2 separate regions of the Homo sapiens genome follow, and region 1 is linked to region 2. Evidence: fine-mapped expression QTL. A gene starts in region 2. The other region holds a variant in brackets. All regions are shown on one strand. Distances are from middle to middle.

Region 1 (5,369 bases), 130 kb after region 2:
TCCCTTTTGCTTTGATGATATACATTCTCTACATAATAATCATTCAGTACTAGTACAGAAAACTCTTGTATTTCTTAAAAACCTAAGCATGATTGTTAACCTCGATGATATTTCCCTGAGGGAGCCCACGTGCTTAGCCAGGGCCAGCAAATAAAGCCAAAGAGTGATGAGTGGAGGTCAAGAGAAAACTCTCAGAGGTCACCCTAAAATCAGCATTTGTGGCTTAGATAACGCTGTTATATTTCAAGGGTTATGTCCCTTCCTATCAGGGAATCTTCCCTTGGTCTCGACATCCCTGACCCTTGCTCAGTATTTTTTCCACTGGCTGACATGTGAAGATAGGACATGGGAAGTGAAAACACACACTCTCTCCCCTGCCTGGGCTATCTATTCAACACCATGTAATTAACCCTGGGGTGAAGGAAAACACCACATGTCTTCGCTCATGTGGTATTTTATTCACAAGACACACAGCTTTGGAATAGTGGTTTCTATCCTTTGCTGGGTATTGTTGCTTATGACCAAGGAAATCTAGTCTTTTTTTTTTTTTTTTTTTCCCGAGACAGGGTCTTTCCCTGTTGCCCAGGCTGGAGTACAGTGGCACAATCACAGCTCACTGCAGCCTTGAACTCCTGGGCTCAGGTGATCCTCTTGCCTCAGCCTCCTGAATAGCAAGGACTATGGGTGCACCACTGAGCCTTCCTAATTTTTAAAATTTTTTGTAGAGTTGAGGTCTTGCTATGTTGCTCAGGCTAGTCTTGAACGCCTGGCCTCAAGTGATCCTCCCATTTTGACCTCTGAAAGTGCTGGAATTACATGTGATAGCCACTGACCCCAGCAGAAACCGAGTCCTTTTTTTTTTTTTTTTTTTTGAGACGGAGTCTTGCACTGTCGCCCAGGCTGGAGTGCAGTGGCATGATCTTGGCTCACTGCAAGCTCCACCTCCTGGGTTCATGCCATTCTCCTGCCTCAGCCTCCCGAGTAGCTGGGACTACAGACACCCGCCACCACACCCAGCTAATTTTTTGTACTTTTAGTAGAGACAGGGTTTCACTGTGTTAGCCAGGATGGTCTCGATCTCTTGACCTCATGATCCGCCCGCCTCGGTCTCCCAAAGTGCTGGGATTACAGGCGTGAGCCACCGTGCCCGGCCAGAAACCTAGTCTTTTAGAGCTTTTCTCTGTCACGTCACTCCTGAGATGTGGGTTTTCTGGCATCTTAAAAGATGAGGTCTCCACCAAATCTCTTCTCCCATGCATGACACTCGTAAGGTTTATCTCTCAGGTAGATTCTATAATGTAAAATTAAGCTAATGCTGTGGCCCAAACTTTCCCACCTCCAGGATTTACAGGGCTTCTCTTCTGTCTACCACAAATGTCATGCTGAGGCTGGAAGCCTTTTCACACCCATTACACTGTAGGGTCTCTCCCCAGGCGGATTCTTGGTGCACAGTGAAGCATGAGCTTGACGTGAAGCTTTTCCCACACTCGCCGTAAGGGTGGAATTGCTCTTCAGTGGAGCTACCTGGTGGTGATGAGAGCTGAGCTTGGCCTGAAGCTTCTGCCACTCTCACTACATGTTACAGTTTTGTTTCAGTGTGGATTCTTCCATGCACCATCCCAGTGGTGCATGTAAAGTGTTCTCACAGTCAAGGCAATGATATCACCTCTCCCTGGTGCAATTCATGGTGAGGTCCGAGCCAGAACTAAAGCTCTTCTTGCACTTGCCACATGTTTGGGGCCTCTCCTGGGTATGCACTTTCAGCTCTGCTCTGGCTGGAGCTTTTCCTACATTCTTTTTTTTTTTTTTTTTTGAGACGGAGTCTCGCTCTGTCACCCAGGCTGGAGTGCAGTGGTGCGATCTTGGCTCACTGCAAGCTCCGCCTCCCAGGTTCATGCCATTCTCCTGCCTCAGCCTCTCGAGTAGCTAGGACTACAGGCACCTGCCACCATGCCCGGATATTTTTTTTGTATTTTTAGTAGAGACGGGGGTTTCACCGTGTTAGCCAGGGTGGTTTCGATCTCCTGACCTCGTGATCCACCTGCCTTGACCTCCCAAAGTGCTGGGATGCCACTGCGCCTGGCCTACATTCTTTACACTGGTAGGGCTTCTCTCTGGCATGTGTCTTGTGATGACACACCACGTTAGAACTCTGCCCAAGTTTTTTTCCACTTTCCCCTATATGGGTTATGAAGACTATTTTTTCTGGGCTTATTTTCCAGACATCTCTGTGCACATCTTCACATCGGACCTCTCTCTCCCGATCTCCTCTTCCTGGCTTTGCCCACCTTGCAAAACCATGGCCAGTTTATTTTTTGGTTTCTCCTTATAATGTCCTGGCAGGTATTTTTTTTTTCACCATTTTCTGCATTGAAGGCCTTTTCCTTCTTCACATTAGAATCCAAAGGCAAAAGTACAAAGTGAAGGTGTTAGACTTAAAATAGGGTGTGGAAC[C/T]GGGAAAAAAAATAACAGGAACAATTGCATTAGATTAAGTGTAAGTTTCTTTGAAGTAATTTACAGAGCTCAAAGGCAAAGCTAGAAGGAAGGTAGCTTTGGGTGACTCTGTCGAAACAACCCGAGCAAGGTGTTTTTCATAGGCTCATATGGACTGCTTCTTTTTTTTTTTTTTTTTGAGATGGAGTCTCTGTTGCCCAGGCTGGAGTGTAGAGGCATGATCTCAGCTCACTGCAACCTCTGCCTCCCAGGTTCAAGCGATTCTCCCACTTCGGCCTCCCAAGTAGCCGGGATTACAGGTGCCTGCCACAGCCCTCGGCTAACTTTTTTTTTTTTGAGATGGAGTCTTGCTCTGTCGCCCAGGCTAGAGTGCAGGGGCTTGATTTTGGCTCACTGAAACCTCTGCCTCCTGGGTTCAAGTGATTCTCCTGCCTCAGCCTCCCAAATAGCTGGGACTACAGGTGCCTGCCACCATGACCAGCTAATTTTTTATTTTCAGTAGAGATGGGGTTTCACCATGTTGGCCAGGCTGGTCTTGAACTCCTGACCTCAACTGATCCTCCCACTTTGGCCTCCCCAAGTGCTGGAATTACAGGCGTGAGCCACCACACCTGGCCTGAACTGCTTGTGAATGATCATTTTACAGCCTGCCATGTATTTACTTCCTCTACAAAGACCTTTGTGCTTAATTCTTCGCCAGTCTTCTCTACAGTCCCTCATTTAATTGAAATTACTCATTTATAAGCCTCTTTTAACATTTATTTATTACTTGTGTAGCACTTACTAAACATCAGGCAGTCTCCTAAGTGCATTACATGTATTAATTCAGTTATTTCACACAGTAACTGCATTAGGTAGGTACTATCATATATGTGTTTATTTATCAATAGGTATTTTTCATCCATGTAGAAAAGAGTGTTAGAAAAAGACTGGGGGCTGGGCACAGCGGCTCAGGCCTGTAATCCTAGCACTTTAGGAGGCCGAGGTGGGAGGACTGCTTGAGCCCAGGAGTTCAAGAACAGCCTGGGCAACACAGTGAGACCCCATTGCTACAAAACATACCAAAATTAGTGGGGTGGCATACGCCTATAGTCCCAGGAGGCTGTGGTGGGAGGATCACTTGAGCCTTGGAGGTTGAGACTGCAGTGAGTTGTGATCATGCCAACCTGGGCACCAGAGAAAGGATCTGTCTGCCATCCTCCCACCCCAGGCCCCGCCAAAAAAAAAAAAAAGAAAGAAAAAAAAAGTATAGCCTCACAGAAATCTTAGGCCACTTCGGTTAGGGAGTGACAGTCCCACGACTAACTTGGGTCTCCTGACTCCTGTCTATGGGACTTTCTGCTAACACTCACCTTCTAACTCCAATTCCACCTGTCCCAAGTCAAAAACCCTAATTTCAGCATCTCCGGGTCGGGGTCCAGGTGCCTCACCGTCCCTTTTGCTTGTGTCCCACGCTCCAGACTCCGCGCGCGCCTGGGCGAGGCTGTTGGGTAGGGCGTGCGCACGAGGCACCCAGGATGGGGGACGGAGGTGTTCACTGCAGGCGCCAACCGCATGCTCACAATGCTCACCTGCAGGCCTTGCCACCCAGGGTGGGTATGGAGCACTGGAGTCTTCTGTATAACTACAGTTCTGGCTCTGGATTTTCCGAGATCGCGACTGTGGCCGAGGCAGGGGCACCAGCAACCAGTGGCGCTCAGTGAAGGGCAGGCTGGGTCTGTTCCGCCATTTGCCGGACCGGGGTGGCCGAGCCGAGGACCTGGAGGAGAAGCGCCCTGCGCCCTCGGTCCGCCCACTCCCAAAGCCTTTCTTCGCTATCCCAGGAAGCAGCCCTGAGTTGTGGTTTGCGCCCGGGTGTGGGTTCTGTTCTGCAGCCCAGGCTCTGTCCGTGGTCTATGAAGGAGCCACCTAATACCGAGGGTCTGTGAGCTGGAGTGCCCATTGGCCAGGAGTCCCCAGCTCTGGGCAGAGGGAAGGCTTGGGCCTCAGGCGGGCTCAACACACCCTTAGCCGGTCAGCGTGGGGACCAAGTGTGGTGGGGCTGCAGAGGGCCTAGGAAAAGGAGAAAGGGGTTGAAGAGCAGCTACCTCCCGTTTGCTCTGTCTGGCACAGGGGCACCAACCCCTGGAAGTGGATAGAAGCACTTTAACTTCAAGTTTGAAGTTTGGAAAACTTCAGGCTTCACCTTGTACCCCAGTGAATGGCTAAACTAGCAAATCGATGGCCACTGTCTGATGTGTCCAACAGACGTGCCATTTGTCCCTCACTATGTTTTCGGTATCTTTGAGGCAACATTAAAAATTGGATTTCAGGCCAGGCTCAGTGGCTCACGTCTGTAATTCCAGCACTTCTGGAGGCTGAGGCAGGAGGACCACCTGAGGCCAGGAGTTCAAGGACAGCCTGGGCAACACAGTGAGACCCGTCTCTACAAAAAAATAAAAACTATGAGGCAGGAAGATCACTTGAGCCTGGAGGAGGCTGCAGTGAGCCGTGATTGCAAAGTGCATTCCAGCTGAGTGATGGAATTAGACCCTCTCTGAAACAAACAAACAAACAAACAAATCACCATCATCACTATCTTCTTTCTTGTGTCCTGATTTTTTTTTTTTTTTTTTTTTTTTTTTTGAGGAGTCTCGCTCTGTTGCCAGGCTGGAGTGCAGTGGTGTGATCTCCGCTCATTGCAACCTCCGCCTCCCGGGTTCAAGCAATTCTCCTGCCTCAGCCTCCCAAGTAGCTGAGATTATAGGCATGCGCCACCACACCCAGCTAACTTTTTTGTATTTTTAGTAGAGACAGGGTTTCACCATGTTAGCCAGGATGGTCTCTATCTCTTGACCTCATGATCTGCCCGCCTTGGCCTCCCAAAGTGCTGGGATTATGGGTGTGAGCCACCGTGTCTGGCCTTTTTTTTTTTT
Region 2 (5,369 bases):
GGGCAGATCACTTGAGGCCAGTTCAAGACCAGCCTGGTCAACATGGTGAAACCCCCTCACTACTAAAAATACAAAAATTAGCTGGGCATGGTGTCACATGTTTGTAATCCCAGCTACTTGGGAGGCTGAGAAAGGAGAATCGCTTGAACCCAGGAGGCAGAGGTTGCAGTAGCCGAGATTGAGCCACTGCACTCCAGCCTGGGCCACAGAGCGAGACTCCGTCTCAAAAAAATAAAAAAATCGCTGTTCGTTACTTTTCCCTCTAATCTAGTATTTGGTGGAAAAACAACAACAAAAGCACCACTGAGCACATAAGCAATTTACTGCAGATGTTGGAAACACAATAAAATACCTTGTGTTCACCTTAGTAGTATGGCAAAAAGAGAATACTTAAGGGAAAAAAAAGAAACCCAAACCTACAGGCAAAAACTTTGTGCTTAGACTAAGAAATGACTGGCAAAGTACAGATGAAAACAAACCTGACTACACAGTCTAAAAGTTAAAAATGTGACTAGCAGTTAAAGTGTCAGTTTTATAGTCTGACCCTCTTCAGCCAGAACACCAGGCTGACCCTTGCTTAAGCCATCAGCCAGTTTTAAAGCAAGGTGGCATCCCCCTCTGCTGGTCCCCAAGTATGCAAGGGTGGCTGTGGCCTCAACTTCCACACAGGAAGCTGAGGCCCACCTGATTTCCATAGTCTGTCTCTGTGAGCAGAGACTCTGTAATCAGCCAGAGTTGCTCTGCACTCCAGAGGCGGTAGCAGAGATACTGGCCTCCTCTGATTCCTTACAGCAGCTGCAAAGCCATAATTGGGCTGCTAAAGATCACACCACCCATTTTTAATGACTACCTAGGTTCCCAGGGGTGTCTAAGTCTATGCTTATTAAAGTCCTATTGTGAGAGAGCAAGTGTGCCAAGAAAAAAACCAACACCCTTTCTTGCTCTCTTAATACACCAGGCAACAGTAACAACTCAAAATTGATTACTATAGGCTCTCCTCTCATGCACTTGGCTATGGGACCCTGACCTTAGCTTGGTCCACAGTAATTTTATAGTAGACTCTTCAAGACTTTAAAAAACGATTTGCACTTAACATAATGGAAACAAGCGTTGGTCCTTTGCTCTTAGGGAGTTTGATACTTTTAACACCTTCACGGTTTTTTGTGGTTTTCAGATTAACCCAAGAAAATGTAAACCTTGTCTACCCCAAAAAGCTTTTCACAAGCCCAAAGACCATTTAGCTATGAATTCATATTTAAGGTTTTATCGTTGTAACCTCCAACCTTTACCCAAAGTATCCATTAAGTAAAACTTCGGAGGGAGGATGGCTCATTCAGCAACCTCCTTTTACAGATGAAGGGACTGGGGAACAATAGCAGAGAGACTTTTCCAGCCACAGAATAAATCAGTAGAGAGCTAGGTTTAAACACATTTAGCTCTGTAATGCCCAATTATCTCTGGAGTCAGGAAGCGATTTAGGTTTGAAAACGCTACAGGCAGATGTTTCTGTGGGTTGAGTGCATTAACCAATATAACACATGAGCTACCAACACAAATATATTTGTTCTGTGCCAGGAGGTGGCCAGGCACTTTATGAGCGCTATAATTTTACCACCCCGGCCCCAATTCAACAAGCTAAGGATTAGCCCAGTGTTTCAGATGAGGAAGAGGTTAACTTGTTCAGGGCCACAGAATTAGACGTGACATAGCTGGGATTCAAACTGGGGACTATCGATTCTAAAGGGGGAAACAGGATAGAGAACGGGCTAGAAGATAGAGGACGGGCTACAATGGACTGGGCAGTCATGAACCTACTTACAAGATCAAGAGCTGGCAAAGCCTTAAAAATAAGAATAGTTACTGCTTCACTGGGCACTTTTAACGACTGCCTGGCACTGTACTGCGCACTCCACGTGGATTACCTAGTTGAAGCCTCCCAACAGTACTAAGAGGTAGGTACAATCGTTATTCCCATTGGCAAATGAGAAAACGGAGACACAGGAGGTGGAGCGACTGGCTCAAAGGAACACACCGAGCCGCTACCGAACGGGGGAGTCGAAACCAGGTCTGGAAGGCTCATGGGCATCTCCTTAAGTCCTCCTAGGCAGGCCTGGCTGAACCGAAGCCAGAAAAAGCCCACGTTTTACGCGAGAGGCAGGCGGGCCCGGCACAAGCGCGGGACGCGGTGACTCAGTTCCTAGCCAGCCAAAGAGTGGGATAAATTCCAGAACCCCTAGACCCGGAGAAGCGCATCCTAGATCCGGCTTTCTAGGCCGGCGAGGACCCAGAGCTTCCGAAACTCCTCAGACCACTGACGGAGTGACTCTGGGACACCACAGTCCTCAGTTTCCCCATCGGGACAATTGGGCGTCGAGGCCCAGGCCTGGCTCTCAGCCGGTGCGGACAGCCTCCCTCTGCGCTGCTCTCAGAGACGCGCACGGGCTGAGGGGACAGCGGAAGCCGGACCTGGGCCGCCCCTCCAGGCCTGCGGGCCACCGGCGCCCGCCCCTCACCTCCTTTAGGCATTGCGGCTCCGGCGGCTGCGGCGGCGGCGGCGGCGCCTCGAACTGACACCGGAACCGGAAATAGCTTGGGCTCGACTTCTTCCTCCTGGGCCAGCCGCCGCCGCCGCTTCAGTGGCCGCAGTGGCCGCAAGGACCCGGACCTCAGGGAGGCCTCCGCACGAAGTCGGACCGTCCTGCGCGCCGCCTAAGTCCAGGCTTGCCCGTCTGCTGCCAGGCAACAACGCCCCTAGTCTCTCCGTTCGGGAAGACGCGTGGCCCTGCCTGCCACCCACCGGAAGTGAGGGCAAATGGCAACAGCGGCTCTGGAATTCTATACAGGCATTGCTGAGGACACCTAAGATGACGCAATCTCCGCGCGGGTAGGGCGGGGCTCCGCAAGGACCTCATGCCTTAGAGATCGCCTGAAGAGCGGAAGCCTTCTGTCGAGAAGCAGCTACCCAAGCTCCAGGAGCTTCCGGTATGTGTTTTCCCTCTGTTCTCGATTACCTTGGCAACGGCTGAGGCGGGAGACCGGTGGTCTGCACCGTCCTGGAGGGAGATATGAGTGGCTGGACTCTCAGCCAGCCACTGGGATGTGTTCGGGCTTTGGACCTTGAGGCCGGAGAGAGCTCCCGAGAGGAGGCGGCGCCACGTTCGTTCTTCTGAGGGGACGGTAGATTTGGGGGTTTTCCTCTAGGATTCTCGCGCCGTTTCCTCTGGTAGGAACGTCTTCTGTGTTCTGATTGTTTTTCTAAGCTGGGTTCAGATGCTGTCCTTTTTATGAGTTTTCCCTACAATCCTGCACTATCTTCCTTCGCTCCTCCTCGCCTCCTTCCCCTAGCGCCCCAATCTCTCTTACACCTCCCGGCACATCTTTCTTCTCGATCTGATTACCTCCTACGTCCTCTTTCTCCTCGATCTGGTTACCGCCTACCATTTTCACCTCCGAGAGGCCTCTTCTGACTTCCAGGCTGGATCAGGGCCCTCGAATTTCCCTGGGTCGTAGAAAAGCGATCATTCTCTTGTCACAGACTATGCGCCTTGGGGCCGAGACCAGAATTCACCTATTTTTAGCTTCAGCGTAGGGGAGACTAGTGCGAAGACCACTGATTTGGGAGTCAGGAGCCCTCCAGAGTCAGGTTTTGCAAATTCTCAGCTGTGTGACCCTGATTCTACCTTATAGAGTTTGATTCCTCCTCTATATGGTTGTTTTAGAGAGTTCATGAGAGGAGGCTCTGTGGGCGGGGGGGGGGTGGGTCTTTGTAAAGTGTCAGTACAGAAGGGAGTGACTGAATGAATTTGAGAGAGATGAATCTGTTATGCTGAAAGGTAAATACTTAACCTGGGTTCTCTCTGGCAGCAAGGAAATGCTGTGTGGTTTGAAAAACGCTTTGCTATTTAGATTGGGATCGGCCTCTTGTATGGGAACTACCTGACTTTATGTAATATGTTGTTTGGTGTGAAAGAGACCTTGGCAATCAGCCAATCCACTGCCCTCATTTTACAGAAGAAACAGGACCAGAGAGGGAAGGTGACCTGAAAGTCACAGAATAATTTTTTAGAGCTGAACAAGAATCCAAGCCTGCAACTGCAGAGACGAGAGATCTTTCTGCTGTCTATACTCTTGGAAAGCACATCCTAAGGTACTTTGATTTTACAGTCATCTTTCCCTTTTTATTTTATGTTTTGTTTTGTTTTGTTTGTTATTGAGACATGGTCTCACTCCGTCACTTAGGCTGGAGTGCAGTAGTGTGAACATGGCTAACTGAAGACTTTCAACCTCCTGGGCTCAAGTGATCCTCTTGCCTCAGCCTTCCGTGTAGCTCAGACCACAGGCACCCACCACCATGCTCAGTTAATTTTTTTGATTTTTTTTTTTTTTTGGTAGAGATAGGGTTTCACCTCATTGCTCAGACTGGTCTCAAATTCCTGGGCTCAAGTGATCCTCCCATCTCAGCCTCCCAAGGTGCTGGCCAAGACCAGAATTACAGGCATGAGCCACCGTGCCTGACCTTCCATCTTTGCCTTTTTAAATACTCACCCCCATGGCTCCCCGAGTCACAGCCCTCCTTATACTCTATTGTAATTGCTTTTTCTCTTGTCTGTCTCTTTGCTAAAATGTCACCTTCTAAGGGGCAAAGGCTTAACTTTTGTTCTGTGTTCCCAACATCCAGTATAGGGTTAAGCTTTTAGTTGAAGTTAGCTAATGACAACAGCAAATGTCTCTTAGGCACACATTATACACCAGGCATGATAGATACAATTCTAATGAAGTCTTTGCAATGACCACATAAGGTAGCTTCCATTATCCCCATTTTACAGATGAGGAAACAGAGGCTTAGGAAGGTTAAGTACCTTTCTGAAGATCACAGCGGGTAAGTAGCAGAGCCAGGATTTGAACACAGTCTGGGTGCTGAGCCCTGTCCCATAGCTGTGACCCTATGCTGACTCAAGGAAGTCAGCCTGTACCGAAATAATGGCTGGCAAAGGCCTTTGGGGATTTGAGACTCAGAAACCAATTCATTTTTTTCCCCCAGATCTTTGCAGATTATCCTGTGGAAGGAAAATGCCTAAAGTCAAAAGAAGCCGGAAAGCACCCCCAGATGGCTGGGAGTTGATTGAGCCAACACTGGATGAATTAGATCAAAAGATGAGAGAAGGTGAGTAGGGGAGTTCCTGTCTGGGTGGGCTGGGTCCAAGGGTCACAGGCTTAGATGCCCCCAGGGGACAGGCATAAATGCAAATATAAAAAGAGAGTGGTCTACTAACACTGACATGTTGTGTTTGCTTATGAACTTGGGGAAATACTGTAAGTGCCCGAAAATAAGATAACATTAATGAAAAGGTCCTCAGAAAAGGTGTTTT

Alleles and levels. Positions count from the first base shown, and alleles are read on the strand shown. Sizes are in standard deviations (SD) of each study's normalised expression.
In carriers of allele T in region 1, the expression in lymphoblastoid cells of the gene that starts at base 2,947 in region 2 tends to be higher than with C alone (moderate effect, 0.66 SD a copy in GTEx).

What was found. PIP is the estimated chance that this variant, and not a neighbour inherited with it, causes the effect.
Region 1: its variant is the best candidate, but not a certain one, in a credible set for the expression of BUD31 in lymphoblastoid cells (GTEx, PIP 0.60).

What each region holds. Positions count from the first base shown.
Region 1 is chr7:99,539,284-99,544,652 of GRCh38, forward strand. It overlaps the pseudogene LOC100419451. Among named protein-coding and RNA genes, the nearest start is that of FAM200A, 10 kb to the right of the region's middle. The variant C/T (reference allele first, on the strand shown) is at 2,455.
Region 2 is chr7:99,406,023-99,411,391 of GRCh38, forward strand. It overlaps BUD31 (BUD31 spliceosome associated protein), which reads left to right and starts at 2,947. Exons shown (of 6, transcript NM_003910.4): 1 at 2,947-3,223; 2 at 4,012-4,147; 3 at 5,042-5,164. The coding sequence starts at 5,071. PDAP1 (PDGFA associated protein 1) reads right to left here and starts at 2,575. Exons shown (of 6, transcript NM_014891.7): 1 at 2,514-2,575. The coding sequence starts at 2,526. MIR12119 (microRNA 12119) reads left to right here and starts at 3,150; the gene lies at 3,150-3,242. RefSeq lists a silencer at 2,344-2,403 and an enhancer at 2,614-3,003.